Regions from separate parts of the Homo sapiens genome. Here region 2 is linked to region 1. Evidence: fine-mapped expression QTL. Tissue or cell type: whole blood. Region 1 holds a variant in brackets; the other region holds the start of a gene. All regions are shown on one strand. Distances are between the middles of the regions.

Region 1 (2,759 bases):
TTTCAAGACACAGGACCCACTGCTCTATTGATAAAAGGCAAGAGTTTAATTTTTTGTTGTTGTTGATCTAAGTCCTTGGAGAAAGTAGACTGTAAATCATAGATGGGGTATTGTATACTCTTGTTACAACATCATCTAGCCAACCTTTCATCTGTCCCATGTGGAAGGTTCTCCAGTTTACATTTTTGGGTTATATGAATGAAGGCAGAGTACTATCCTATAATTAAGACTAAAACCTCTATCAAGAAGCAATGGGAGGAAAAGAGGTGAATTTACTTTGCATCCAAGATGATGGGCTTACTGTACTATAAGTAGTTCAGTGTATAGTGCAACAGGTATATTTTCAGAAGAAAGAGTCCTGGAGAGCTTGTAAAAAAATGGAAAGTAGATTCAAAAGAAATACTTTTAAAAATACATAAACATGCAAGAATGTTCATAGGATTAAAAAAACCAAATGTGCAGTAAAAGGGTAATAGGTAGAATAAATTTTTCCATATCTTATATATATGTCTGTAAAATGGGTATGTAGTCACTTAAAAGAATGATGTAGATATATATGAACTGACACACCAATGATCCAGGAATACCAGAACACGAAAAGACAACAAAAGCTGCCGAACAGTATCTTGGTATCACTACGTGTGTGTTCGTATATCCCCACATAAAAAAATAGTAATCTCTGGGGTTGGCGACATGAGGTTTTCTCATTTTTTGGATTATACAATTCCTTGTTGCTGGAATGTCCACCAATAAACATGCACTAGATGGCTAACTTTGAACATGTCTTCCCTGCCGGTGTGTAGGAAAAGTGCAGTAGCTAACCACTCTGTAAACACTATGGGCACAACTGGTAACCTAATCCATTGACCTGGAAGATGATGATGGCCCTTGGAAAGGGTCAGCAAGGAGAATAAAGTGACTGGAGTTAGCACATCTGCTATCTTTAGCAGGGTGTGCCAAGTTTTGTAAACAAATTATTTTGTAATTGCCTTATGTTTAATGTTCTTCAAAGCCGTAGAGCAAAAGAACAGATTATTTCTGAGAAGTGAAAAACAATTTTCATTTCACTATGCTGCTCTCCATTGGTCACTTGGGTATGTCCTTGGAAATAGATGTCAGAGTCCTGAATCAAACTGTGCCTTTAACTAACATTGTAACCTCAAATTGAGTCATTTAATTGCTAATCTCTTAGTTTCCCCACCTGTTAAAATTGATAATAATAATCCTTACCATCGCATTCCTGAATGAGGTGTTGTGACGCTTAATAAGATCATGTTTGCAAAACGCTTTGAGCTCTTTAGATAGAAGACACAATATAAACACAAAGTCTCATTAAGATAATTATACAGTGATTTTTCATAGTTTACATGCAAGGCTAAACCTAGTGATGGGGAGGTCATTTTATGAGAGCAAAGAAGA[A/C]GACTGGCTTTCAAAATCTGAAAATGAAATTCCTAACACATTTTAAAGACGAATATAGTACAAACAGTTTTTAGAATATGAGAGCTTAGTTTTGAGAGATGATTCAAAAAAATGAAAAAATTTTTGGAAGTTTTGTGTTTAACTGAAAACATCTTTTGTAAAACAGAGTGATCACTTCTATCCCTTGAAAGAGAAAGAAAATAAAAGCAAGCTCTTCAAGAATAGTGCTGGTTTTTTACAGAAAGTTTTATCATTAATAGGGCTATAAAGTGGCGAAACCTGTCTGGCCCACTGAGCGTACGGACGGTGGACTCATTAATGCTTGGCAGAGTCTCCTCCTGGGTGGCACTGTAGCAGTTGCTCTTGCGATGGAGCAGGGGAGGCACATCCCCCACATTCTCCTTCCTCCCAGGCTGTCCTGAGAATCTATCATGTTTACCACAGGCTCCCCACCCTTTGGCACCATGGGTGCCTGCTACCACTGTAGCCCAAGATATGGACAGTCCATTTCAGTTCCCAGGATTTGGAAGTGCCGGCACAGGAGGTCGGTAACCCCAGAGGAAGGTAAGCTTGAAAACAGAAGCCTGTTCTCTGGGTTGCAGGTGGAGAGAGAAGGGTGTTCATTGAACATAGAGATGAATCTAACTAGATCATCAGAATAGAAGTTTCTCTCTACTTAGTGTTTTTAGCTTTCTAGTTTTTATGGGCTGAACTATGAAGAATTCTAGCTGAAAAGTCATTGTTTTGTCGCATAAGTTGATTCAGATGTCCTCCAGTTGATACCTGCAGGGGTGCTGATCTCCAATTTTTTAAATTATACCATCTGAATATTAGCATTTTCATTCAATTATGTTGAACAAAACTAAGAATTTATGTGTCTAATTTTTTTTTTTTTTGTAAAGGAAGGTTTACGGCCAATCTTTTTTTATAGACATTATTTTCTTCATAAAGACTTTGGAGTATGAATGTGACTAGAAATTGTTTGAAATTTAAAGATTTTATACCATTCTTTAAAGATAGGTTGATGTAATAAAATGCTGTATCAATATCAAGAAATACTTAATCTAGATTATTTAACCAAAATAGGTGAAAATATTTGTATCTAATATTTCATATGGAAATTGTTTAAATCATGCTTTTTGTATTTAATATTTAATATGAGCATTATTAGGATGTGAGAGGAAGAGATTTTCTGATTTCTTGTTTCCTACAGGAACTGTCCCTCATTCCTGTCAAACAAGTTTCACTTGATTCTTATCAACAAGTTTATACTGAAATTAGAAAAATTACCTAGGAAAAATAAATTATGTAAAGGTAATTAATTTCAGCATTAAGGGAGA
Region 2 (2,759 bases), 75 kb before region 1:
TACAGTTCGCATTTATCCAAAAGCAGATTAAAGACAATGCCTTTTCTTGCCTACCTACTTGGAAAAGATCTCAGTGTCACTCAAATCACATTCCAAATCTCAACGACATTAAGGCCTCAAATCCTCTTAGGAAAGGTTTGAAGGTAGTTCATTTCAGTAATGATTAGACACTTGGGGACAAAACAGTACCTTGGCATCAAGGTCTGTACTGATTCACCAGCACAGAAATAGCAGTAACAAGATCTTCAACTCTGAGGTGTTCAAATAAGCAGACAAACTCCCTCGTGAGGCCCAGGCCTCTTGACATCCGGACTCAGTCTTTCTTTCTCAGATCGCCAAGGGTCTGGCCCATTTCTCAGCCTAAACCTATTTTGCGTTTAATTCAAACCAGTCAAAGTAACTTAACCGCCAGCAGTTAAAAAGCTACTAGGAGGAAGCGTAGGCAGGAGATGGGAGAGGAAAAGGCTCCTGTCAGGGTTTGGGCTTATGTGTGGATTCTTGAATTCTCCTTCTTTGTTCCTTTTAGCACTTACGATCAAGAACGGCTAGGCTGAGGGGGCAGGGGGGCCAGGCCACTGGAGCGAAACGGCCTCTCCGGATCTGGAGGCGTGGGAACCTCGGGAATAGTGGGGAGTTCCAGACCAGTTCCCTTCCCCCATCTGAACAAGTCCAGAGCGTGCGCCTTGAGAGGCGCTCGGAAACAGGGAAGCTGGGGACACGTAGCGAGAGACTGGTTGTCGCCCTGGCTGTCCGTCTTAGACCTAGCTTAGCGACCACCGCCTTCAATCCCTCAGCCCGGATCAGACGGTGCCAAAAGACAGCACTGCTTCCCAGCCTGGCCCAACGGCTCGGCTGCTGATTGGGCACCGCCGCCTCCCGCCCCGCCTCCCCTGCCACCTCGGGCGCCGCTGCACGTTTCCACTGGTCTTCAGCCCTGCCGATCAGTTTACTGCTCACCTCCCCCAAACAGCTCGTCAGGCCGGCGCGTGCTAGGAAGGCGGGGCCTGTGGCCTGTGGGGCGGAGCCTCGGTGGAGGTCGGCGCAGCTGCCCCTTTGGGCTTTGGCTCTGGACTGGAGCGCAGCATCCTTCGAGGCTGCAGCCGCCACGGCTGTTGCCGTAAGCAATCCTCCTGCCTCAGCCTCCCGAGTAGCTGGGACTCGGGACCAGCCTCCCGAGTATTGGTCAGGTAAAGAGAGTCTTGTCTGTTCTGCTGGCCATCTGCCCGTCTCTTCTTCCCGACCAAAGGCTGCCTGCTCCGCCTTCCCCCGTGGCTTTCAGGGTTCTTGGAATGAGGCATCAAGTCTATTTACCCCGCCAGCTTATCTTCCTCCCCTTCTGTGTCGGTTCCTCCAGCTCCCCCACCAAGCTGCTCCCAAGTACGTTGGTGGGCCCTCCGGGTCATCCCAACGCTCCTCACTACAGAACTCCTGTCGTTGACTCTCAGGTCCCAGCCCCCTTGACCCGCCAGTGCAGTCTCATTCCCAGCTTGGCACAGGAAAGGTGGAGGGCGGGAGGGCGGGAGGGCGGGGGACGGAGAGATGCAGAGCTTTTTTTTTTTTTTTTTTTTTTTTTTGAAGCTGGATGTGTTTAGCGCAGAGGGGGAGCACCACAATGGGATTGCATTGGGAACAGAAGCAGCTTCATGACTATGGTTGGCAATGACTAGAAAGGTATCTGTTGCTGCTTTTTGCTTGTGTTTATAGATGACATTTACCATCACCGTTTTCTTCTTCTTTCATCATCATCATCATCACCATTGCCACTACCACCACCTCCAAGGCCACTACCACCACAGCATCTCTGTTCCTCCATCAGAGCTCTTCAAGTTCTGTAAAGGCAGATTCTCTAAAGGCATGTAAGTGCTGACGGATCCCCCAACCCCCTCCCCCACCACCAAATAACGAACAGTGCTCTTGCCCCCTGAGGCCAGAGCCAAGCCCTCATTTAACTCAAGAACAAGTAGCTGGGAGCAGAGTGTGAGCTGGGAGGATTTTCCTTATCCTCATTTGCAATTGAGATTGCCAAAGAAAACCCTTTATTTTAATCATCCACATTTCTGCTTGCTGTCTCCTGGAGAGTTCCATGTTAGCACTCACACACTCCGAATGGGCTGAATGCAGAGCCTGAACCTGTGATATATATGGGGAGTGGCAGTCACTGAGAGGTGAATGTCCAGACCCAATCCTTTAAGAAGACCAGGTGGAGTAGCAGACAACCTGACTTTCTGCTACAGTAGCTCCAGCTGTACTAAAGCATGTTTACTATTCATGTTTGCATATGGGACATGTGCCATCATCTGCTATGCCCCCTTGCGTGTGTATTGGCAGGGGGGCGGAGGGGCGCATCTAAATTCCTAGGAGAGAGAATTATATTCTGTTCTCTACACCAGGTAGCATCTTATAGGCACACCAATGGGATTCAACAGCCGTTGCTTAGCTGTTTCTAGGGCTTACTGCAAATCTCTTGGATCACAGACTTATTAACCCTTTTTTGGGAGGGAAAACAGTATAGCTGAGAATTGCATACCAGATTAACTGTCGTTGTGGAAGATGTTGCTTCCACAATGAATCAATGAGGTCTCGGGTCTTCTTGATCAGATATCTAAACACTAGTCTCCTTTCTCTCAACTGTGTTACAGTCCAGGAGCAGGACCAATGAATAGTTAGACATATTGCAGGAACAAAGAAGCAATGGCCTCAATGGAGGGAAACAATGGAGAAGAGTAGTGAGACAGTATATTGTAATGGCTAAACTCATA

The links. PIP is the estimated chance that this variant, and not a neighbour inherited with it, causes the effect.
Region 2: it holds the start of FMN1, and the variant in region 1 is fine-mapped to the expression of FMN1 in whole blood (INTERVAL, PIP 0.99).

What each region holds. Positions count from the first base shown.
Region 1 is chr15:33,118,473-33,121,231 of GRCh38, reverse strand. All of the region lies in intron 4 of FMN1 (formin 1), which reads left to right. Among named protein-coding and RNA genes, the nearest start is that of FMN1, 75 kb to the left of the region's middle. The variant A/C (reference allele first, on the strand shown) is at 1,420.
Region 2 is chr15:33,193,006-33,195,764 of GRCh38, reverse strand. FMN1 (formin 1) reads left to right here and starts at 1,051. Exons shown (of 21, transcript NM_001277313.2): 1 at 1,051-1,187; 2 at 1,705-1,856. It overlaps LOC105370759 (a long non-coding RNA gene), which reads right to left and starts at 854. Exons shown (of 3, transcript XR_932090.3): 1 at 190-854. RefSeq lists silencers at 749-958, 733-1,072.